Homo sapiens: one gene and its partners. The protein of the gene in region 1 purifies or fractionates together with the protein of each later gene. This does not show direct contact. Each region holds a gene or a part of one and is shown in the gene's direction. Other genes may lie near its edges.

Region 1 (3,500 bases):
GTGTTAGCCAGGGTGGTCTCGATCTCCTGACTTCATGATCTGCCCGCCTCAACCTCCCAAAGTGCCGGGATTACGGGCGTGAGCCACTGCGTCCGGCCAAAAGTAAATTTTTTAACAGTGATTTTGTAACAATCTTTTTGTTCAGCCTAGTTTCTCATTTCAACCCATCATATAGTAGATTTTTTGATTCTCAGGTAATAGTAGGGAATCAGTGGGTTTAACTGTGTCTTATAGGTGTTAGCAGAAAAACCTCTCTGTACAATGACAAGTGGCCACTGAGAACACTTTCTCATTTCTCATGAACTGCCCAATATTCTTAGCTGTGGATGGGGCAATGTTTTCCAGGTCTTCAAGTCATTTTACAACGAAACCTACTTTGAGCGACACGCAACATTCATGGACGGGAAGCTCATGCTGCTTCTATGGTCTTGCACCGTCTCCATGTTTCCTCTGGGCGGCCTGTTGGGGTCATTGCTCGTGGGCCTGCTGGTTGATAGCTGCGGCAGGTAAACAGAAGGTGCACTGCTCCCACTTAAAATTCATGCTAGTAAGCCACACTGTCTCTGGGCATTTGTGCACCTGGTGGGGAGACGTGTGACCCTGAAAATCAGGAGATCTGAAGTCTAGTCTCCGCTTGGCCACAGTCATCATGACCTTAAACCAGTCCCTAAATGTCTCTGGGATTTCTTTCCTAGGTAGTTGCATGGGAAAAGCATTCCCTTCCGTCACCTGCCACAGAGGTGGTGCAGCCTTTGAGATCAAGGTTCTTGACGGTGCTTAGCTTAGTGCCTTGTAAGCACTTCCAGTGGGTGTTCAGTAAATGCTCGTTTATCAGGTTTCATTCCGGGGTCAGGTGACCATGGCTCCAAGTTCTAAGCGCTGCAGCCTCTCCCCGCGTGTCTTTGCCAGAGTTTGTTACTGAGGCTGGGGTCAGGCTGAGTCACGCTGCCGGCCACTGTCTCATAGATACGAGATTATTTGGAAATGAAGACTGGGCAGGTCTTTGAACTTTGCTTGGCTTACACAGATTCACTAATCATTCTTCCTAAGCCCAGGTGCTCCAAAGACGTGACTCCACAGATAAGGAAAGATGCACAGGCCAAGGTTCCCAGGAGGGCAAAGCGTGAGCCTGGGCTCAGGATGAGGCCTGGTGGCATTCCCTTAGGTCAGCCCACTCATTCGGACTCACAGTTACACTTGGGCATGGTGTGCCAGGTTAGACAGCTTGCAGGAGTGACTGGAAGGCCCTCTAGTGAAAAGTCACTCAAAAAACCAGAGCAATTCCATTTTCAGGCATAGAAAAAAATAGCGCTGATTGAAAATTAATTATCTATTAATTAATGCAAGATTCATAGGACCTCTTCTTGCATATACTTGATCGACAATTAATTTGCCATACATTATGCGCTGGAAAGAAGAAACAATTCACTCTAATGTAACTATACCATAATTCAAGCTTTTTTTTTTGGTCATCCAGACTGTGATGTTCTCAGCCAGACCAAGAGTGTTTGGACTGTTCTGGAAGCCCAGTCTTGGCCTCCACTTCCTTGTCTGAACCCATTTTCCAGATGAAGAGCCTGAGTCCAGGAATGTGGTGGTGCCAGCCTTGCCCAGTGGGGTCCTGACAGCCCCAGCCTCCCCTTATAGTCATCAGGAAGGGCTGGGAGTCCAGAGAAGGGTGGGAACGTGTCGGGGCTGCTTAGTCTTTTTGGGCCTCCTGGCTGGCTGACCCTCCCCGTGATGGGGGATGTGCTCTGGTGGCTGCTCCTGAAGGCTGTGGCAGCCCCAGGGAGAGAAAAGTGGCCTGAGAACACCAGCCTGCTTGTCTGTGGACTCCCTGGCCAGTCCTCAGTGTTGCCGACCTGGGATATCTTCATAGAGTCCTCACCACCCACTCCCTGCTCTTGGCACCAGAACCTCGCCTTCCTGGCTTCCTCACTGAGTGCACTCACTCAGGGTCCCAGCGGTCCTCAAAGATGTGTGCAAAGTGTGAGACAATCACAAAGGTAGTCCTGGGGCTGCTGACAGCTTCATCACCCCCAGACCTGTAGGGGTGTGAGGAGGGAGCACCTCCACCTGGAGGTGGAGAGAGAAGAAATAAAAAATGAATACCAGGCTGGGCACGGGGGCTCGCGCCAGTAATCCCAGCACTTTGGGAGGCTGAGGTGAGCCAATCACTTCAGGCTAAGAGTTCGAGACCAGCCAGGCCAACATGGTGAAACTCCATCTCTACTAAAAATACAAAAATTAGCTGGGCATGGTGGCGCATGCCTGTAATCCCAGCTACTTGGGAAGCTGAGGCAAGAGAATTGCTTGAACCCGGGAGGCGGAGTGTATTAGTCCATTTTCACGCTGCTGATAAAGACATACCCGAGACTAGGCAATTTACAAAAGAAAGAGGTTTAATGGACTCACAGTTCCACGTGGCTGGGAAAGCCTCACAATCATGGCGGAAGGCAAAGGAGGGGCAAGTTACATCTTCCATGAATGGCAGCAGGCAAAGAGAGAGCTTGTGCAGAAATACTCTTCCTTATAAAACCATCAGACCTGGTGAGACTTATTCACTATCACGAGAACAGCACTGGGAAGACCTGCCACCAGGTCCCTCCCACACATGTGGGAATTTAAGATGAGATTTGGGTGAGGACACAGCCAAACCATATCACGGAGGTTTCAGTGAGCCAAGATCCCACCATTGCACTCTAGCCTGGGCGACAGAGCAAGACTCCATCTCAAAAAAAAAAAAAAGAGAGAATATCAGGATGCACCAGCCAGCAACCCCACAGCTCGGGAGCTCTCTGCCCTCTTTCTGGTCCACTGCCCATTCTTCTCCTGTGCAAAACCCAAGCCAAAGGCGGGGGGGTGGGGGGGGGCACAGGAGCCATTGCTGCAAGTTGGCAGGGGACCTAGAGCACAGAGTCAAGCAGATGAGTGGATCATGAAGGCAGCAGGACGCACCTGGCATAGCGCTGTTTTTCAGGCACTCCCTCTCCTTCTCAGGCTTGTGGTTTTTCAGCCTTGGAAGGGATCTTAGAAATCATGTAGTCCCATTCTGCACCCCACTGATTGTAAGAATTCCCTGTTCAACGTTCCTGACAGTCATCGTGTCTAGTCTAGAAACCACCAGCGACAGCTTGAATACCACCAGTGATGGGAAGCTCTCTACCTCCTGGGACAGCCCATTCTTTGTTCCTGCCCTCCCCTTTGCAGGCAGCTCCGATCGTTAGAATGCTCCCCTCCCCAGCTTCTACCCCCACTGACCCCAAGTCTTCCTTCCTGGGACGTCTGCCCATTCGCCCCTTCTTCCCATCTGTCTTAATCAGTTCAGGCTGCTACAACCACAGACTTAAACAACAGACATTTATCTTCTCACAGTTCTGCAGGATAGAAATTCAAGATCAAGGTACCAGCAGATCTGTTTCCTGGTGAGGGCCTTCTTTCTGGCTTGCAGACAGCTTTCTTCTGGCTGTGTCTTTTTTCTTTTTCTTTTTCTTTTTTTT
Region 2 (3,500 bases), on another chromosome or scaffold:
TCAGCCCCGGAGTTGGAGGCTGCAGTGAGTCCTGATAGCATCCCTGCATTCCGGCCTGTGTGACAGAATGAGACCCTGTCTGAAAAAACAAAAAAACTTCCTGACACCTAGGTTGCACCAGACCAGTGAAATTGCGATTGCTGTGGTGGCACCCAGGTGTCATTGTTTTTGTTTTTTATTTATTTTTATGTTTTGAGACAGGGTCTCGCTCTGTCACCCAGGCTAGAGTGCAGTGGCATGATCTTGGCTCACTGCAGCCTCCACCTCCTGGGCTCAAACGATCCTGCCACCTCAGCCCACCACGTAGCTGGGCCCAGAGGCATGCATCACCACGCCTGCTAATGTCTTAGTGTTTTTAAAACTCACGAGGTGATAGTGTGCAATCATGTTTGAGGGCTAGGGACATTTTCCCCCACCAGGGCACGTTTGGCAATATCTGGGGGCATTTTCGGTTGTCCCAACTGGGGGCGAGGGCATGTAGTGGGTCGAGGCCAGGTATTGCTGCTAAAACTCCTACAGTGCGCAGGACAGCCCCCCAAAGAATTATCTGGCTCCAGATGTCAAGAATGCCAAGGATTAGAGACCCTGGCCCACACCCTCAGTCCTTCAGTGGGATCTGGGACCAGTAGCACTGACACAGCCTGGAAGCGTAGAAATGCAGAATCCCAGGCCACACCCCAGACTTGCAGAATCCAAAACAACTCCCCCCACCCCCCACCACTCCCCCCAGAAAAACCCGGCCGCATGTGTGCACATTAAAGCATGCGAAGCCCTGGTTTCGAGGACACCTAGGGTCCCTTGCCAACTGATGAGTTCAAGGTTGGGAGGCACTGAGCACCGCGGATAAGAATGTGGGCTTTGAGATGACACAGGCGTCCTGGGCAGACAGATAGGTCGGGAGGGGAGGAGGAGAGATCTGCGGCATTTCTGCCCCTGAGAGTCTCCTTCCTCTCCGTGGGTCTGGAGGGAGAGTCAGGCCTCTTCAGCTGCCACACTCACCCACCTTCCCTCTCCTTTGTCCCACAGGCCCTGGTGATCACCAATTCAGCCAGAAAATCCTCCACGGTCGGGGAGATTGTCAACCTCATGTCTGTGGACGCTCAGAGGTTCATGGACTTGGCCACGTACATTAACATGATCTGGTCAGCCCCCCTGCAAGTCATCCTTGCTCTCTACCTCCTGTGGCTGGTGTGTGTTTAACGCCGTTTCCCTTTGCATGCAGGGAGGGACTTCTACGTGTGGGCAGTGGGCCGAGGGAGTGGGTGTTGATGGTAATGGCATGTAGAGCTCCCTGGCAGTTCCGGCTGTGGTTCATATTTTATTTTCCAGCCTGTTAACCAATTCCTCAGTATTTTGTTCCTTTCCTGAATTGTCAGGTTGATGTTCTCCTTGGTGGCATGGCGTTTTCATTTTCTCTTTTCCTTGACAGTGTCAGTAATTAACTACCCTACAATGGACGACACATCATATTTCTCCCCTTGAATCCTCCCAAACGCTAACCAGACTCACTTATTCATTAGTCCCTAATTATGGTGGTCAAAATTCTCTCAATTGCAAGGGATATAAATCTGTCTTAAAGTAGCCTAAGTGGCCGGTTGCAGAGGCTCACGCCTGTAATCCCAGCACTTTGGGAGGCCGAGGCGGGCAGATCACCTGAGATCAGGAGTTCGAGACCAGCCTCAACGTGGAGAAACCCCGTCTCTACTAAAAATACAAAATGAGCTGGGCGTGGTGGTGTATGCCTGTAATGCCAGCTACCTGGGAGGCTGAGACAGGAGAATTGCTTGAACCTGGAAGGCGGAGGTTGCGGTGAGCCGAGATTGGGCCATTGCACTCCAGCCTGGGCAACAAGAGTGAAACTCCAATTCCAAAAAAAAAAAAAAGTAGCCTAAGTAAATAGAGGGAACTTTGGGGCTGCATGTATCTCAGAAATCTGGGGACTAGCTTCAGGTGTGGATTGATCCAGGAGATCAAGCAATGTTGTCAGTACTCAGTTTCACCCACTGCCCTGTTGTCCTCTGAGTTAACATCATTCTCAGTGGTACTTCCCTACATGGCTCCGTAGCTTTGGGCTGATAACATCCTGATAGATAAAGGTGCCAGAGAAAAGACAAGGCAGCATTTCTCTGCACAGCCAGAGTCAGTCTCAGAGAGCACTCTGATTAGCCTGGCTTGGTCCTATTCACACCCGTGAACCAATCACTGTGGCCCAGGAGGCAGAGTTCTCTCATTGGCCAGCCTGGGTCACATGTCCTCTCCCATGGCAGAAGAGATGTGATTGACAGCCCTTCCATGTGGAGAGGGAGAGTTCCCAAAATAAAATGATAAGCAAAGAGGCTCATAGCACAACACATGCCTTGTGCTTTGCTACCTCTGGATCTTTGCCACGTACCTTTCCTTCCTTCTTCCTAATTGATGAAAGCCTGCTCATCCCCCAAGGCTGTAACAAACACTACTTCCATTGATTTACCCTCCCTTCTCAATTAGATGGACTTCTTCTTTTGAATTTTGAGTCCCAATAACTTTAGTATAGGAACTCATCTAATAATACTTTCTGAAATAGTTTTTTTTGTTTTGTTTTTGTTTTGACATGGAGTCGCGCTCTGTTGCCCAGGCTGGAGTGTGGTGTGCCATCTTGGCTCGCTGCAACCTCTGCCTCCCAGCTTCAAGCAATTCTCCTACCTCAGTCTCCCGAGTAGCTGGGACTACAGGCTTACACCACCACGCCCATTAAATTTTCTTTTTTTTTTGTATTTTTAGTAGAGACAGTGTTTGATCATGTTGGCTAGGCTGATCTTGAACTCCTGGCCTCAGGTGATCTACCCTCTGTGGTCTCCCAAAGTGTTGGAATTACAGGCGTGAGCCACCGTGCCCAGCCCACTCCCTGAAATAGTTTTGTTTTGTTTTTTTTGCATGCTCAGTGTACTGCCTCCTCTTTGAAGGGTAACATGTTAGCTACTTGCAGACATATAGCAGCTGACTTTTGTGTCTTCTGTGGGTACAACCCCAGCAGGGCCTGATGCATAATGGGCACAGCTCAAATTATTATCTGTTATTGAAAGAGAAGGGCTGGACGAAATGGCTCATGCTTGTGATCTGAACACTTTGGGAGGCCAAGGCGGGTGGATCATCTGAGGCCAGGAGAGCAGCCTGGCCAACATGGCAAAACCCCGTCTCTACTAAAAATATAAACATTAGTCAGGCATGGTGGTGTATGCCTATAATCTCAACTACTTGGGTGGCTGAGGCAGGAGAATGGCCTGAATCCGGGAGGCGGAGGTTGTATTGAGCTGAGTTTGTACCACTGCATACCAGCTTGGGCAACAGAGCGAGACTCTGTCTCAAAAAAAAGAAAAAGGAAGAAGAAAAAATTACTGGTTTATTTGGCTGTAGTTTGGTTTTTTTTTGTACATTTGTAGAGCAGAAGGTGAGTAAAGTGTTTCTAATAATAAAACTCAGAAAAAACACCAGAATTTAATTGTCTAATAGGCTGGGTACAG
Region 3 (3,500 bases), about 78 Mb from region 1:
TGTCTCTGTGTACTGTTCTCAGCTACCTTTTTTTTTTTTTTTTTTTTTTTTGGAGACAGGGTTTTGCTCTTGCTTCCCAGGCTGGAGTGCAATGGTGCGATCTCGGCTCATTGCAACCTCTGCCTCCCACGTTCAAGCAATTCTGCCTCAGCCTCCCAAGTAGCGAGGATTATAGGCATGCGCCACCACGCCCAGCTAATTTTTGTATTTTTAGTAGAGACAGAGTCTCACCGTGTTAGTCAGGCTGGTCACAAACTCCTGACCTCAGGTGATCCGCCCACCTAGGCCTCCCAAAGTGCTGGGATTACAGGCGCCTGGCCTCTCAGCTGCTTAAATAAGAATTAAATGAACTATTTTGCTCTTTTTTCTTCTCTAAGAAATAGTTTCTAATCAAGTACAACTTAAAAGATGAGATCTTTCTTAAATCTGTTGTCTCCAGCTTCCGTGTAAAGCTCAGTTTACTCATAAAAATATTTTGAGATATGTTACCTGACCATCCTCTTTATTCCCTCACCTTCCAATCTTAGTTCAGTCTGCTTGATATCTGCCTTTAGCCCCAGCTTTCCTAGACATTTTTTGTACATACTATATTAGGTATTGTTCTAAACTGTTTACCTGCTTAATTATTTGTCTCAAAAATTTTAGAGGCAAAGCCCAAATATTTTTAGTCTGGTATAAAACCACTCAATGTATAATAGTTATATATATTCTGCTATCCTTAGAAATAGTTGTCAACTCTGCTTTTGAGTTTTTCATTTATTTGTTGTGTATGTAATATACACAAAGGTTGTACTACATTCTTTGGGGAAATAACAAAGAAATAGAAAGCATGGCCACATCCTTGAAGGAGCTTATTTAAAATTTACTTGGGAACATAAAACATAAACACAGGGGCTATGAAAACAGTTAAAATAAAACATCAATTTGTGGTGATCTCACTGAAATATTTAACCAAAAGTGTTCCCTACCAAAATGTTTGATTTGGACCTAATCCCGAGAAAACAAATTAATGTAGAATATTCTACAGAACAACTGACTTCTAAAGTGTCAGTATCATAACAACCAAAAAAGTTGGAGGGAGGCTTCTCTAGACTAGAGAGACATGGAAACCAAATGTAATGTATGGTCTGTGATCAGATCCTTGATCAAAAATGATATCTTTGTTCATAGACATAGTACATGCTGAGGTAATTAGGGGTTAAATATGAATGACAACTATTTGCTTTCAAATAGGTCAGAAAAAATTGAGTATGTATGTGCATACATAGAGAAAAAAGATAAAAGTGACAAAATGTTAATAATTAGTGAATCTAGGTGAAGAGTATAGAGATGTTCACTGTCCTATTTTTTCATCTTTTCTGTAGTTTAGAAATTTTTTTAAATAAAAAAGTTGAAAAGTTAAAAGAAGGATATTAAAAGATAAACATTTGAGAATATAAGGTATGAGAAACTAAGCAATTAGAATAAGGTGTGGACTCAGTCATTAAAGATACATTTTTGCGATGGGCTTTACTTAGTTAATAGAGAGGAATTGGCAAGAGATAGGTAATCAATCAACTCTTCTAGTTGAAAAATGGAGTTTGCTTTGCTGTCATGTGTTTAGCCATACCATATATGTGATTAGCCACATCTTTTATGATTTTTCAAAAAAAGAATTCTTTTTTGCTCTCATATGTTTAGGTCTATGATTATATATAACCCCTTTTGTTAAAACATTGGAAATACCTAGAATTTGTATTCTCTGAAGAACAACATGAATTTTTTTCTTTTTGAAATTCACTCTCAAGCCAACTTTAGGTTATCTGCGTTAGAGCCCACAGTTCACCAGGAGTTGCAGATACTTTTCAGAGCAGCACTTTAGATGAATTTTCTCCACCTATAATGTGTATGCTAATCACTGGTTAAAATGCAGATTCAGATTCAGAAGGACCAAGATGGAGCCCAGTTTTCAATTTTTAAACAACTCCCACTGGATGCCAAAATTAATGCCGCTGGTCTTTAAACTGCAGTTTGAGTAACAAAGATACAGATGATGATTCTCAGTAGGGATATGGGAAGATGAATACTTTAGTCTTCCCAGGATGGTAGGGTACTTATCTTTAAATTGTTATTCCTACCTCCCCTACAAAATCCACATTTCTTACATAGACCAAGAGGCCCTTTTTAATCTAGCCCTTGTGTGCACCAACTTCTTACCCACTAGCCACACTGGCCTTGTGTTTCATTGAATACGCCAAGCCTTTCCCATTTTAAGGCCTCCGCACTTATCCTTTCCTCTTAGAATGCACTTCTCCTGGCTTCTTCCAGAGTTGGCTTCATGTTATCCATTTAAGGTTTAATGACATCCTCTTAGAAAAACCATGCCTGGCCATCCTACATATTAATTACCTCTTCTAAGTTACTGTGTACTGTATCACTCTTGTTGTGTCTTCTCTGGTACTAATCAGCTTACTAACTTATCTTATATATTGGTTTGTTTACTGCCTGTCTTTTCCTCTATTATAAGATCTTTAAGGATAGGAACCTTGTCTGTCTTGTTCACTACTATATCCCTTATGTTTAGAATAGTGCCTGAGACATAGTAGAAACTATACATTTTTTGTTAAATAAATGATGAATGAATGAACAAATGGACCAACATAGATTTTGATAGCGGTAGATGATAATAATTACTGGCAGAGTGAGCACCTCTGATTGACAGCAGTATGATCTATTCTTATCTCTCAGGTGGATTGGGAACCAGCCCCCTGCCCTACACTCCTAAAACAGGTTGAACAGCACAGCTCTGAACTTCAGTGAAGATATGTTCAATTACTGCAAACTTTTCTTATATTTTTATCCAACCACTACTTTGTTTTCCTGTGAGTGTAGAAAACTTTCTCCCTGGCTTAGTCTCATAAAAGTACCCACAGCCATACAAGAAATGTTTAAGTAAATGCATGAGTGGGAGTTTGGTAGATAGTAATTACTCAAGTTAATAGTAGCATTCATTCAACAGATAGTAATTACAGAGTTGGAATTTGGCCAGAATGTTCAGGATGACATTCCTGCTCTTTTAGATAGTGAAAACAAATGCTTTTGTTATCACAGATAATCATAATATTGAGGTTGATCTATTAAGAATATAGGTCAAGACACTACTGTTAGTGAGAAGGGTGCTTCTTAGCTTTTTCCTGTAACATCAGTTTAGGTCTGATTCAACTAACAAAAAACCCCAACACCATTACCTATATTGTTTGTGTTTTTCCTTAAGGTCTCTTCTTATTACTTGCTAGCCTGACTTGAGTCATCAAATCCAACAAAAATCACGGTTTACACTCTGCTTCAGGCTAGCTGCGTTTCATGTACTATATCTGACTACTACATCTGAAACATTCTTCTTGGTAGCATATTTCAGTCAGAGTATGAAAATTTTCTATGACTAAAGTCACTGTAGTGGCCTTATTTCTTCTCCCCAAGCCAGAGTTTTCAGTGTCTTCAGTCTCCTTAACTTCAATTGA
Region 4 (3,500 bases), on another chromosome or scaffold:
AAATGCTCAAACGCCCCTTTTTGCAGTTGGGAAGTTATGACACAAACATTGGACATCTCTGACATATTTTTTCTCGTTTTCAGCTTTTCGGATGATCCCTTATCCCTTGGAAAAGGGGCACCTATTTTATCCTTACCCAATCTGTACAGAAACAGCAGACCGAGAGCTGCTTCCATGTAAGTCTCACCTCTCTTCAGCCAGTGAGGGTGTGTGGTGAAAGGTGGGGATTGGAAGAGGTGGGAATATCAAAGTTTAGAATGCTCCTTGTCTTTTATTACTTTTCTCCAAACCCCTGTCCTTGTTTGATAGCATATGTATTAAAGTGAATTATGTGAGTGGGTTTGGCTTCCTTTTCCTCCAAGTCTCTCCAAATTTATCAAAGGGAAAGATGCCAAAGGATTGAAATGTAGCTGAAGAAACCCTATGTACTGATTGGCCTGAGCACAGAGACCCCTGGTTTGGGCTGGTGTCTGCTGGGCTGGTCCATTGTGAGGGTTCTGCCTGGGCTCTTCAGCTGGACAGATGTGGTCTGCACCGACCGGAGTTTGAAGAGGAGCTGCTGACTGAGAGGGAGCTGCGCATGAGTCATGGGTGGGAGGCCAGCACCAGGAAGCTGGCACCATGGCCAGATGTGGAGTTGTGGGGCAGGGCAGTGTGCTGTGTGGTGAGGCTGTGCTCTGGCAAGAGGGATTTCCCGTGAGCACCTCGTGGGTTGCATGTAGTGACTCGGAGTACCATGTGCAGAGCACACGTGTAGCCTCAGCACTGTATGAAAGCACACAAAAGAAAACCCTGCCCTCGACTACCTTACACTTGCTAGCAGTCTAATGACCCATACCACATGTGGAAAATATTATTTTGCTTTGCTGTAATACAACATTGTTTTGACAATTCAGGCTAAATGGTTATTATCAAATCATACTATGTACAAGGATCATGTCAGGCTCTTCATGTGGCCCAGACTTAGGATATATTTTTCTCCCTCAGATAATAAGCTCCAAATTTTAGCTCTTCTCCCTTCTCTGTCCTCTCTCCTGCCATCTCTGCCCTTTCACCAGCCCCAGTTATATCAATATCTTATAGCTGTAACATATAAGTACTTTCCCCAGAGGAACAGTGTAACCTTAGAGCCCTGGGTGCATAGTAAATTTCCAAACACCAGCATCATCAAGCCAGTCATGAATCTCCAGCATGGTGGGATCTGGGTGCAGAACTCAATGGCTGTCATCAGATTGAGGTAGCAGGAGTTGCTCACTTGCCTTCCTGCCAGCCAGACCCAGTGCGAGATTTGTTACTCAGGGAACTGGGAGATCCCCGTGATGTGTTTCTCACCGTTCGAGTTTGATTGTGAAAAGAGTCTGGTACCTCACACATTAGATTTGATTTCAGAAATCCTCACCGTGGGCCCATAGTTTACCTTTCAACTCCCCCTTCAGGGAGATCCTTGTTAAGTTTCGGTTTTCTGGTAAGAAAGGCAGTTTTCTGAAAAGTACAGTATTTTTAAATGTTTTAATCGAGTCCAATTAAGTTTCCATGGGGATAGATTAGTTATTAGAACAAGATTACAGTTCTTAAGAGAAACCTTATAGGGATAATCTTTATAAGCCTGAAATAGGAAATTATGGCTCACATTAATTGAATGCAGTGCTCCAAGTCTGGTCTCCCTCCAAAATCTTTTTTGGTTGGATGTTAAGGGTGAGGATATGAAGAAGGTAGGTTGTTTTAAGTGCTACCCATAATTTGCACATTAAAAGTATAATTATAGCCACACGAGGCCCTGAGCACACTTGTTCCGTGTGTTTGAATCCCAGCAGGCTGACCTACCTGGATGTAGTAGGCATATTCGTCTGCATGGAGTTCCTCCTGGATTCCCTCCACCCTCAGTATTAGCCTTGTGGATTACTGTTGAAGACTCTGAGGAATAGGAGCTGAATGGTAGAGGAAAGGCCTCTAGATCTTGTATTCCCTGAGGACCATGGAGCCCTCTGGTCCTCTTGGTTAGAGTGGGCTGTTTCTCACGTGCAGTTTCACAGCCTCTCCCCCAGCACCCCCAGCAGGTGGCTCTTTCTCCTCCTGCAGGCCCGCCCCATCGACCCAGGCAGTCTCTCAGGCAGCCTCATCATGAGCACAGAGAAGGAGGCGATTCTCTTGACCTCTGTACCACAGCTTTTTGGTTTTCCCAAACCCAATGTTTGAAATATAATATAAAAATTATAGAGGGCACTCTAAAGAGCACCAGCTTTTCTTGTTTTTTTGATGATTGTTGGAAGTGTATTTGTCATCAAGAGTCTCTTACAATTGTGCCAGATAACCCTAGCAGTCTTGACCTTCCCTCCTTGCAGTTTGAATAGACCTACATGTGAGGTCCTTGCTGGATATCTCTCTATGAGGGTGGCACCCTCCACTGATATACTTAGAGGGTGCCAGGAAAAAATACAGGAGAAACTAGTATCATCTCATTATAATGATTTTTTAAATACAGGAAGGAAAAAATATAGACGGGATACCTTTTTTCCCTGTATACTCGGTTTTGGATTTTCCAGGTTTTGTACAATGAACACGTGTTTTGTAATTTGAGTAAATTACAAATTGTTTCAGCTGTGTTTGCTTTTGAGAAAAAAATACTATACATTAGGCATAGGCGGTGCTCCTCTTCCCTCCCATGAAGGCGTGACACCCTCAAATCAGCCCCCTCCTGCCTCAATTTAGAGTGCTGAAGGCTGGATGGAGACTTGCGACCAGCAGATGGGCCTCCAAAGGCTGGGTCAGATGTTGGCTATGGTTTGTCAGGTGTGCTATTTTTTCATTTCCCATAGGCTTCCAACTCTTTCCCAAGCTCTGGAGTCAGTGCCACCATAAAGACCTCCCCTGAGAGTGCAGTTTACTCCAGCCCTGATATTTCCCTTTTGGTCTTCTCCACAGCTTTCCATGAAGTCTCAGTTTACCCAAAGAAGGAGCTTCCCTTCTTTATTCTCTTTACTGCTGGATTATGTTCCTTCACAGCCATGCTGGCCCTCCTGACACATCAGTTCCCGGAACTTATGGGGGTCTTCGCAAAAGCTGTGAGTGTTTGCCTAGAGGGAGGCCTTGGGGAATGGATGGGGAAAGCCAAGGGCATAAAAGCAGCGTGAGAGAAATGGGGTTGCCTTACAGAAATGGGTACGAGCCTGCAAAGATCATTGCTCACCATTTAATTTTCATGATCGTCAATGGAATCAAAGCATTAAGGGTCAAATGAGAAAGTGCAGGTTGTTACTGCATGCCTTGCCTCATTTCACAACAAATTCTTAGCAGTTTCCAAAAAATGCAGGAGGTCCAAAAGGATGGAATGATTTAGGAAATCCTAGCAAATGAAAATGTGTGGGAAGTTACTCGGTTTTCTGTAAATTGAATGACATTATTTCCAATCGTTGGATATTGTGGGTCTTTCCTTAGTGAAGGATGAGATTTACATTTTCAAAGATGATTTAAATAATTTTTTTTAATGGCTGCAAACCCTT
Region 5 (3,500 bases), on another chromosome or scaffold:
TCTGTGGGGTGGGGCCGGGCGTGGAAAGTCCCCCGCGTCTGTGGGGTGGGGCCTGGATACTCCCCCGCATCTGCGGGGTGGGGCGTGGATCGTCTCCCGCATGTGCGGGGTCGGGTGTGGATGGTCTGCCGCGTCTGCGGGGTCGGGTGTGGATGGTCTCCCGCGTCTGCGGGGTCGGGTGTGGATGGTCTCCCGCCTCTGCGGGGTCGGGTGTGGATGGTCTCCCGCGTCTGTGGGGTCGGGTGTGGATCGTCTCCCGCGTCTGTGGGGTCGGGTGTGGATCCTCTCCTGCGTCTGTGGGGTCGGGTGTGGATATTCTACTTGTTTTTTCTGTCTTTGATGTAGCGCTCCTTCAACATCAACGTGTGAGGCGGATTGTGTGCAGTGGGTAGGAGAGTGTGGTCTGTGGAATGAGCTGAGCAGAAAGATAATCAGGCTGAGAAACTCAGGGGCGTGGTGATTGTGGCCTAGGGCTCAGAAGGTCCCCGCAGAAGAGTGTCTGCCAAGGAGAAGGAAGGGGTGGGCTTGCCAGGGCCGAGGCTGGTGGGGCTGGGCTGGGCAGTGGGCAGCTCCATGGCCTCCACCAGATGAGTCGGGAGCCTCGTCCCTTGACAGCAGGAGGAGCAGAGGTTGGTAGGTCTGTGATTTGGAGACAGTGTCCCGCTGTGGCATGGAGAGGGAATGGGGCACGGTCAGTGTGGTGGTCCTGCCAGCGCCCAGCAGAGTCCAGCATAGCCCAGCACACTGTCCAGGAGGGAGCTCTGCCTCGGTGGCGGTGGGAGGGAGCGGCCAGCTGGGCAGGACTCTGGGGCCTTGGCAGGGTCCTGGATCTGGGGAGGGGGCGGGGGAGGAGTAGAGTGGCCCCGGGATCCTGGCTAGAGAAGCCATGGCAAGTGCGGCTCCCAGCATGTGAGTTGCAGGGGTCAGGCTGGGAGCTTGCTTTCGGCTGGGGCCGGGCTGGGTCTGCCAGGCAGTCCCTGGTGCTTGGAGAGGGTCACGGTGGGCACAGGACTCACCAGGGGGTGCGTGAGGCCGGAGGGTGAGGGTGAGGTCCCCGGTGAAGTTCTTGGTGGCGTGTGGGGGTTGTGGAGGTTGGGAGGGTACTGGGACCAGGTGTGGGGCCGGGCCAGGGAGCAGCGTGGGAGGGAGGACCACCCTTGAGAAGGGATTGTCACCAAGAGACGCAGCCCTAGGGGGAGTGCTGCCCACCGAAGCCTGACCGGGGCAGAGGGGAAACGGAGTCCAGGCTCAGCCAAGCTGATGGGCCTTGAGCTGTGGCCTCGGGTGCAGGGACAGCTGGCAGTAAGGCCACCTGGGCCCGCGGGAGCCAAGGGCACCGGCGAGTGTCCTGGCCATGCAGGCCGTGAACACGGAGCCTGCAGGGGACGTGCGGGTGAAGCAGGAGCAGAGGAGAAGCCTCCCGGCAGGGGTGGTGGCATTTGGGGGTGGTGGTATTTGGGGGTAGAGACTCCCGCTCAGGTATGGCTGTGTCTGGCCCAAGAGGCGTGGAGGGGCCAGCCCCCACCTGTCTCAGGAGGACAGGCTGCTGAAACCTGAGGGCCAGGCGGAGGGGAGGGGCCGTGGCCGGGGTTCTGGTGTGGGCCAGCAGCAGAGGACCTGGGGTACTGGGCACTGCCAGTTGGGGGCTTGTGGTACCATCCCCTGCGGGAGGCTGCACCTCAGCCAGTAGGAGTCCACTGAAGCTGTGGACAGCACCCAGGCAGAGGCCTCCTCCCAGCTGGGGAGCCAGGCCAGGCCCCGCTGCCCTCACACAGTCCTGTTTAGACGGATGGCCCTGCAGGTGCAGAGCTAAGCCCGGCGCCCACGCCCCTCCTGGGGTGTCTCCAAGCAGTGTCTGCCTGGGGCAAGCCTGGGAACGTGAGTTCCCAGGACACAGGAGCTTGACCAGCCACCCTCCCAGCGGGAGTGTGAGAGCGGGAATCTGCGGGCGGGGGTCTGCGGGCGGGAGTGTGCGGGCGAGAGTGTGCGGGCGGGGGTCTGCGGGCGGGAGTGTGCGGGTGGCGGTCTGCGGGCAGGAGTCTGAGTGGCAGATGGGTGAGGGACACATCAGGGTCTCTGGGATGGCTCCAAAGGCTTCCCTATGTGCCTGTTGGGCAGGGCCCTAGGGCCAGACTGGAGGGACCAAGCCCAAGCACCCCAGGCTGTGGGACAGCAGGTGTGACAGGGCTGAGGTAGAGCCCCCAGCGGTCAGGCTGGGAGGACAGTGGGTGAGCCTGGGAGTAGGGGCCACCCAGATGGTATTTGACAAGGAAGGACCAGGACCTTTCTATATCCACAGCCCCTGTCCCCTGAGCAGGGCAGCCTGGCCATCTTGGTCTCCATCTGTCTTGGGAGGGGACAGCCCCAGGGGTGAGTGGAATGTCAGGGAACAGAAGGCCAGGCCGGGCCAGCACCCCAGAGGTCTCAGTGGCATTAGCCTCTGCCCTCCGGGGGCGGGGGCCAGGCTGAGGGTGGCCCCAGTGTGGCATCTGGCTCCTGGGCTGGCCAGATTCCCAGGGAACAGTCACCCAGCACCTCGTGTGTATTTCGACTTTATTATTATTATTATTATTATTATTAGAGCCGAGTGTCGCTGTGTCGCCCAGGCTGGAGTGCTGTGTCGCCCAGGCTGGAGTGCAGTGGCGCGATCTCGGCTCAGTGCCAGCTCCGCCTCCCGGGTTCACGCCATTCTCCTGCCTCAGCCTCCTGAGTAGCTGGGACTACAGGCGCCCGCCACCATGCCCGGCTAATTTTTTGTGTTTTTAACAGAGACGGGGTTTCACCGTGTTAGCCAGGACGGTCTCGATCTCCTGACCTCGTGATCTGCCCGCCTCGGCCTCCCACAGTGCTGGGATGACAGTCATGAGCCACCGCGCCTGGCCTCGACTTTATTATTAATACGGTAAAACTACAGAGAGTTTGAAACATCAGTCTGGGGCGTCCTCCTCTAACCAGTGCACTTGCTGCTGCAGCGCAGGCCCTTCAGGGGACGGGGATGGGGGCCAGTCCCCTCCCTGCCTCCACGGCCCAAGCCCCAGCCTTCCCCACAGTCCTGGAGGATGGCCCGTGGCTGACAGTCTCGGTGGGCGCTGTGTTAAGGTGGCGTCCCCAGCCAGGTCCCGACTCCCCAGCTTAAAGAACAGGGTGGCTGCTGTGGCTTGACTCACGAGTTGCCACTGGCCTTGATGTGTACACGCCCTTGCTCTAGCACTGCCTGGGGCTGGCCTGGCTGGAGGGTAGGGACGCTGCACGCCTTCCCTCTTCCCCCAGGCGCTGGTGACACTGCCCTGCAACCGTCAGCACCATCATCTCCACAACTTGCTCTGTCCCCTTCAAACCCTGACTCCCAGCTGCCCCGCTCCCCCAGCCCCGGCACCCACCATTCTGCTGTCTCTGAACTTGGCTATTCATAGACGTCACATAGGTGACTCATAACTGTGTGCGACCTTTTGTGTCTGACCAACTCCTCTTGGCACAGTGTCCCCAAGGTCCCCCAGGCT
Region 6 (3,500 bases), about 140 Mb from region 1:
TGAATGCTGAAGAATAAACCATCTTTTATGTAGACCACTTAGCCATTCAGCAAGCACTTATGGAGAGCCTGCTACGTACCAGGCTTTGTGCTGGATGCCAAGGATACAAAGATTACAAGACAAACATGGTTTTTGTCCTCATAGAGCTTATAATCTAATGTCAAAAAATATTTAAATCACACATTACAAAACTGTATGGTAAGCACTTTGATGAGGGAAGTACAATGTAAAACAGGATTATATAAAAAGCAATTTATCTGCATTTGGGAGGGCAGAGAGGGCCTTCCAGGGGGAGTAAATAGCATAACTGGGAGAGGGCTAGAGAGAAGTTCCTTTCAGAGGACATCTACACAGGTCTCGATGTGAAAGAATATGGATCTAAAGAACCAAAGAAGTTCCAGGGGGCTGAACACATGAGTTTGCTAGGCAGCAGGGGCATGATAAGAAGCTAAAGTAGTCTGTGCTAAACTACTGAGTTTACACTTGCTCAGTAAAGTAGTCCCTAGAAAGACATAAAATCATTTTATTCATAAAGGTCCTAGCCAGTTTAAGAAGAAAAGAGTAGTTGTGTCAGTGTGTATGTATAGAAAGTTCTGTTTACTACAGACCAGCTTTATCAGCTGTCATGTGGCTACGGTCTCTGCCAGTTTGAAACAAAACTGACGAAAGAGGGATCCTGCAATCTCTCGGCTTTACATTGAGATGAAAACCACTTTTATGTAGATTAGGCAGGATGGTGGAGAAGCTAAGAAAACTCTCTGAAGGAAACAGATATAAAAAATATTAGGCTTTCTACTACTCCTCTAATTTTGGTCTCAACTCCTCTCCCCTGAAGTTTTTATTTTTTAAATTAATTTATTTTTATTTATTTTTTGAGACAGGGTCTCACTCTGTTGCCCAGGCTGGAGCGCAGTGGTGCAATCATGGCTCACTGCAGCCTCAACTTCCTAGGCTCAGGTGATCTTCCCACCTCAGCCTCCCAGGTGGCTGGGACTACAGGCACACCCCACCACCCCCAGCTAATTTTTATGTGTGTGTGTTTTTTGTAGAGACGGGTTTTCACCATGTTGGCCAGGCTGGTATTATTTTTAAATACTTGCAATCAGGGATCATCCATAAGAAGCAAGTCTCACTCTGACACCTTTTCTTTTTTTTCGAGACCTAGTCTCACTCTATCACCCAGGCTGGAATGCAGTGGCACGATATTGGCTCTCTGCAACCTCTGCCTCCCAGATTCAAGCGATTCTCATGCCTCAGCCTTTGGAGTAGCTGGGAATACAGGTGCCCACACCCAGCTAATTTTTGTATTTTCAGTAGAGACGGAGCTTTGCCATGTTGGCCAGACTGGTCTTGAACTCCTGGCTTCAGGTGATCTGCCCACCTTGTCCTCCCAAAGTGCTGGGATTACAAGTGTGAGGCACCGTGCCTGGCCACTGACTCCTTTTCTATTTGCAAACTTCTCTGGCTCATATAATGATTATCATAAGATTATGGCAAAATATGTACTTCCATTTTTGTCTTAAAGCATACTCTGTAACATGGATAACTTCAAAACTCCAAGGGCATTTAAAAATTTATTTCCAATGTCATGAGCTTTAATAATAGGTCTTATAAGAGTGGATCTTATCTTTAATCCCTGAAATAAGTTAACCGTCTAGTTAGCAGACCTTTTATCATAAAAGAGTTTCTATAAAACATTTCTCAAAAGAAAATATGTATTGACATTCTATTTTCTTTCTCCTCCAGATACTATTTTTTGGATTTGGGTGGCTTTTCTTCATGCGCCAATTGTTTAAAGACTATGAGGTGAGAAGAAATCATTTTGTCATACTTACACTATATGATTTAGATTGACAAGAAAAATGTCTCCATTAAAGAAACATTATGTTCATTTCCAAGATAGGAAGCTTTTACCAAATAAGTACTATATAACTATTAGATTGCAGAATATAAGTAGACTTAATTGATTTAAAAGGGGGGAAAAAAGGCAAATCAAATATAGCCCAGAAGTTAGGAGCAAGGATTATGTCTTAGTCATATCAGGATATGTACCAATAGCAAATAGTTATTCTGTAGGAGAGAATTTAATTCATAATGTCTCACAAATGTTCCCTTTCATTTGTCTATCTGGCCCTGAATTGCAAACCTTATATTATAAGTTAATACCAAAATCCCAAGGCTATCAGGGGAACCAGTCCCCAATATTTCAACATAGGTTCTTTCTGTTTTCCTTAAGTGTCGGCCGGTCTGAGAAATAAAGAGAAAGAGTACAAAGAGAGAAATTTTACAGCTGGGCCTCCAGGAGTGCCATCACATATTGGTAGGACCGTGATGGTGACTCCGAGCCACAAAACCAGCAAGTTTTTATTAGGGATTTCAAAAGGGGAGGGAGTGTACGAATAGGGAGTGGGTCACAGAGATCACATGCTGCAAAGGGCAGTAAAATCACAAAGCAGAGGCAAAAATTAGAATTACTGATGAGGGTCTGTGTCCCACTGTGCACACATTGTCTTTATAAACATTTTAACAGGAAATAGGGTTCAAGAGCAGACAACCAGTCTGACTAGAATTTACCAGGCTGGAATTTCCCAATCCTAGTAAGTCTGAGGGCACTGTAGGAGACCAGGGTGTATTTTAGTCCTATCTCAACCGCATAAGACAGACACTCCCAGAGCGGCCATTCATAGACCTCTCTCCCAGAATGCATTCCTTCCCCAGGGTTATTCCTTGCTGGAAAAAGAATTCAGCAGTATTTCTCCTACTCGCTTTCTGCAAGAAGAAGAGTATGACTCTATTCTGCCCAACCCCGCAAGCAGTCAGACCTTATGGTTATCTTTCCGTGTTCCCTGAAAATTGCTGTTATTCTGTTCTTTTTCAGGGTGCACTAATTTCATATTGTTCAAACACACATGTTTTTCAAACAATTTGTACAGTTAACGCAATCATCACAGGGTACTGAGGTGACATACATCCTCAGTTTACAAAGATGACGGGATTAAGAGATTAAAGTAAGACAGTCATAAGAAATTTAAAAAGTATTAATTTGGGGAACTAATAAATGTCCATGAAATCTTCACAATTTATGTTCAGAGATTGCAGTAAAGACAGGTGTAAGAAATTATAAAAGTATTAATTTTGGGAACTAATAAATGTCCATGAAACAATTTATGTTCTTCTGCTGCGGCTTCAGCCAGTCCCTCCATTCGGGGTCCCTGACTTCCCGCAACACAAGGCTGGTGTTGTTTTTATCTTAAGCTTTGGATTCAGAAGATCACCACCCTAGACTCGACATTTCCTAGTTAGTTCTCCTAATTAGTAATAAGATCAGTGGTTATAGTCTACATTTGGGTCATTTCTAGGATATTCTCCATTAAACTTTCCCAGGGAGTTTATTGTCTGAAAGAGCCTGGGATTCTGGAGATTTTCTTCTGCCCAATACTTTAAGACCTCCCGAGGAAGGTTCCAGAACTGATCCAGGATCTGCAGAGTGTTGAAGAACC
Region 7 (3,500 bases), on another chromosome or scaffold:
GGCCGGTCAGCCAGGGAAGGGCCTCTCAGAAGATTCTAGAAACTCCCGAGTTGCACAGGCAGCCCTGAGCCCTTTCTTTAGTGACAGGCGGCTCAGATTTCATGTCACACAGCCCATATCGTCAACACCACCATTCCCCTGATTGTTTTGTTCTTACCACACTTGTTTTTCAACAGAGAATCCAGGCCAGAGCCTGAACAGACTATTTCAGGAAGTACCGAAACGAAGAAATGGGTCTGAAGGTATGTTGCAGGCAGGCGTTTTCTTTGCAGTCAGTCACCTAGGGAAGCAGCATGTCCTTAGCTGTGTATTTGGGTTAAAACTGTGCAGTGTGATTCTGGCCTGGAACCTGATGGAAAAACAGCTAGTAAGTATAAAACAAGGCACGGGTTCAAGCACACCCAGCCCCTTCCTCCCGAGCTGCCTGCCCTCTCCCAAGCACAGGCGGGGGTGAGAAGAGGCATTGCTAAGCTAAGCCCCCCGAGTCTGAATCCCAGCCCACTTCAGATCCTAATTACCCGGTCCCCCGTTTTTCTCAGACGCAGTTGAAAAAATAACAGCGGTTGCTCTGAGAAAAGTCAGGTGACCCGTCAAATTAAATACTGCTGCTTCCTCGTATTTTTAACTCGGAAACACACTCAAGGTCCTATGGAACGGACGCATCCCACATCGTCCCGGTGGCATACTTGTTTTTAAATGGTGGTATACTTGTTTTGAATGCAGTGGTTCCTATTTAGGAAGGTAGTAAGAAATTAAACTATCCGGGTGGCTTCCCGAAAGAGCTGGGGCCAGCCCCTGGGCCATAGTAGCCTCATTTCGTCGGCACGTGTGCCTGCACAAAACATCACCATGTGGCCGAAAGAATCCATCCTCCCCACTTAGGAATTTCTGCAGGCTCCTTTCCTCGTATGTAAATTTTAAAAAGATATTATGTGATAATAGGTGCAAACAATTTTTTAAGTTAAGCCTTTCTTCACCCTGTGCCTCTGAATGATTGATAGACAATCAGCCTCAAACCCTCTGCCCTCCTTTTCCGTTTATCCTGTGTGGGACCCCAGCATCCAATAAACATCTAACCCCGAGGAGAGTCAGTCCCAAGCCACAGCAGTTGCTTCTAAGTGACTCATGAGAAACATTGCCTTTTAATCACTCGCCTTTTATATATATGGATTAAATGATCGGTTCTCCCGGGTACTAACCCACGGGTGGTGTCCGGCTTTGGCAGAGTAACATTGACCGTAAGGTCAAATGAGCAGGAAATCCCTCCTGCCCGGTGTCGCTGTGAAGTTGCACTCACAGCAAACACAGGCCACTGGGAGGCCACATCTGCCTCCTTGTGTCACCAGCCCCCACCCGGGGCTATATATCAGAATGACGTCTTCGCGCAGCGCTGATTTTTGTCCGGGGTTTGGGTTTGATGTCATTGGCGCAACTTCTCCCCACAGGTAACATCACCACCCGGATCCGAGCCTCGGAGACTGGCTCTGATGAAGCCATCAAGTCCATCCTAGAGCAAGCCAAGAGGGAGCTCCAAGTGCAGAAAACTGGTACAGCTTCCATTTCTTCATCCACTGTCTTCAAACTTAATTAAGAGAATTGTCATGAGTGCTCTGGTCAGCAGTAATTAACTATTTTTTTTTTAAACAATAATGAATGCCTGTTCTCAAGCATTTAGGCACGTAGAGAGAAGCAGGTCTGTGTGATCTGTATTTGCCTAATAGTTACCTTTTTTTTTGAGATGCAGTCTCTCTCTGTTGCCTGTGCTGGAGTGCAGTGGCACGATCTCAGCTCACTGCAACCTCTGCCTCCCGGGTTTAAGCGATTCTCCTGCCTCAGTCTCCCGAGTAGCTGGGACTATAGACATGTGCCACCATGCCCATGATATTTGTGTTTTTAGTAGAGACGGGGTTTTACCATGTCGGCCAGGCTGGTCTCGAACTCCTGACCTCCAGTGATCCTCCCACCTCGGCCTCCCACGGTGCTGGGATTACAGGTGTGAGCCACCGCGCCTGGCCCCTAGTTGTAATTATTCACAGAAATTACGCTCCTTAACTTTGACAGAACCACTTGCATTTCAGAATATAGCACAGGAAAATGAATACCAAGTATAAAAATTATCAGAGGTCAGGCGCGGTGGCTCACACCTGCAATCCTGGCATTTTGGGAAGCTGATGGGGGAGGATGACTTGAGTTCAGGAGTTTAAGACCAGCCTATGCAACACAGTGAGAGACCTTGTCTCTTAAAACACTAGCCAGGCATGGTGGCATGCACCTGTGGTCCCAGCTACTTGGGAGGCTGAGCTGGGAGGATTGCTTGAGCCAGGGAGGTGGAGGGTGGGTACAGTGAGCCGTGATCGTGCCACTGCGCTCCAGCCTGGACAACAGCGAGATCCTGTCGCTAAAAAAAAAAAAAAAAAAAAAAAAAAAAATTCTCGGGGAAAGGAGCCCCAGGAGGGCAGGTCGGGGAGCACTTTCACTGACACCCCCTTTATTACCCTCTACATCTGTGTGTATACCAAAGGCCACCAGGTCATCAAGCTGTAGTGTCAGGCCCTGGTCCTTGGTTGAGACAAGATGCCTGAATGTTTCACTGACAGGGGCCATGCTGGGGAAATACACAGTGTGGTTCTCCCAAATAACCCACACTTTGCAGTAGGTCAAGTTAGGATGAGAAGCATGTCCCCAGCTGAAGGGGGCCGCCCTGCCACACTCTCACCCCTGTTTCTCCATGCAGCAGAGCCGGCCCAGCCTTCCTCCGCATCCGGCAGCGGGAACTCTGATGACGCCATCCGCTCCATCCTGCAGCAAGCCCGCCGGGAGATGGAGGCCCAGCAGGCTGCCCTCGACCCTGCCTTAAAGCAGGCACCACTGTCCCAGAGTGACATCACCATCCTCACCCCCAAGCTTCTGTCCACCTCGCCCATGCCCACCGTGTCCAGCTACCCACCTCTCGCCATCTCCCTGAAGAAGCCCTCCGCAGCTCCTGAGGCCGGTGCCTCTGCTCTGCCGAACCCCCCGGCCCTCAAAAAGGAGGCCCAGGACGCCCCCGGGCTGGACCCCCAGGGAGCAGCCGATTGTGCACAAGGGGTCCTGAGACAGGTGAAAAATGAGGTGGGCCGCAGCGGTGCCTGGAAGGACCACTGGTGGAGCGCGGTGCAGCCGGAGAGAAGAAATGCCGCCTCCTCCGAGGAGGCCAAGGCCGAAGAAACGGGCGGCGGGAAAGAGAAGGGCAGCGGTGGCAGCGGAGGTGGCAGCCAGCCTCGGGCCGAGCGCAGTCAGCTCCAGGGACCCTCGTCGTCAGAGTACTGGAAGGAGTGGCCCAGCGCTGAGTCCCCATACTCCCAGAGCTCAGAGCTGAGTCTGACCGGGGCCAGCCGCAGCGAGACACCACAGAACAGCCCCCTGCCATCCTCCCCGATCGTGCCCATGTCCAAGCCCACCAAGCCCTCGGTCCCCCCGCTGACCCCCGAGCAGTACGAGGTCTACATGTACCAGGAGGT

What was found.
Region 2: the proteins of SLC2A7 (region 1) and ABCC1 purify together in Homo sapiens (affinity purification with mass spectrometry; one large-scale study listed by BioGRID and IntAct). This does not show direct contact.
Region 3: the proteins of SLC2A7 (region 1) and HS2ST1 purify together in Homo sapiens (affinity purification with mass spectrometry; one large-scale study listed by BioGRID and IntAct). This does not show direct contact.
Region 4: the proteins of SLC2A7 (region 1) and ST7 purify together in Homo sapiens (affinity purification with mass spectrometry; one large-scale study listed by BioGRID and IntAct). This does not show direct contact.
Region 5: the proteins of SLC2A7 (region 1) and GNPTG purify together in Homo sapiens (affinity purification with mass spectrometry; one large-scale study listed by BioGRID and IntAct). This does not show direct contact.
Region 6: the proteins of SLC2A7 (region 1) and GPR89A purify together in Homo sapiens (affinity purification with mass spectrometry, with the first as the bait; one large-scale study listed by BioGRID). This does not show direct contact.
Region 7: the proteins of SLC2A7 (region 1) and CUX1 purify together in Homo sapiens (affinity purification with mass spectrometry; one large-scale study listed by BioGRID and IntAct). This does not show direct contact.

Annotation. Positions count from the first base shown.
Region 1 is NC_000001.11:9,019,924-9,023,423, reverse strand, and holds part of SLC2A7 (solute carrier family 2, facilitated glucose transporter member 7), read left to right. Parts: intron 1-345; coding exon 346-506; intron 507-3,500. UniProt on the Homo sapiens protein: Probable sugar transporter. Even if its physiological substrate is subject to discussion, it is able to transport glucose and fructose. Does not transport galactose, 2-deoxy-d-glucose and xylose.
Region 2 is NC_000016.10:16,047,116-16,050,615, forward strand, and holds part of ABCC1 (multidrug resistance-associated protein 1), read left to right. Parts: intron 1-1,026; coding exon 1,027-1,188; intron 1,189-3,500.
Region 3 is NC_000001.11:87,075,135-87,078,634, forward strand, and holds part of HS2ST1 (heparan sulfate 2-O-sulfotransferase 1), read left to right. Parts: intron 1-3,500. UniProt on the Homo sapiens protein: Catalyzes the transfer of a sulfo group from 3'-phospho-5'-adenylyl sulfate (PAPS) to the 2-OH position of iduronic acid (IdoA) or glucuronic acid (GlcA) within the heparan sulfate (HS) chain and participates in HS biosynthesis.
Region 4 is NC_000007.14:117,219,001-117,222,500, forward strand, and holds part of ST7 (suppressor of tumorigenicity 7 protein), read left to right. Parts: intron 1-83; coding exon 84-176; intron 177-2,922; coding exon 2,923-3,062; intron 3,063-3,500. UniProt on the Homo sapiens protein: May act as a tumor suppressor.
Region 5 is NC_000016.10:1,354,931-1,358,430, forward strand, and holds part of GNPTG (N-acetylglucosamine-1-phosphotransferase subunit gamma precursor), read left to right. Parts: intron 1-3,500. UniProt on the Homo sapiens protein: Non-catalytic subunit of the N-acetylglucosamine-1-phosphotransferase complex, an enzyme that catalyzes the formation of mannose 6-phosphate (M6P) markers on high mannose type oligosaccharides in the Golgi apparatus.
Region 6 is NC_000001.11:145,614,488-145,617,987, forward strand, and holds part of GPR89A (Golgi pH regulator A), read left to right. Parts: intron 1-1,746; coding exon 1,747-1,806; intron 1,807-3,500. UniProt on the Homo sapiens protein: Voltage-gated channel that enables the transfer of anions such as iodide, chloride, bromide and fluoride which may function in counter-ion conductance and participates in Golgi acidification.
Region 7 is NC_000007.14:102,198,626-102,202,125, forward strand, and holds part of CUX1 (Homeobox protein cut-like 1), read left to right. Parts: intron 1-176; coding exon 177-242; intron 243-1,445; coding exon 1,446-1,547; intron 1,548-2,734; coding exon 2,735-3,500. UniProt on the Homo sapiens protein: May be involved in intra-Golgi retrograde transport.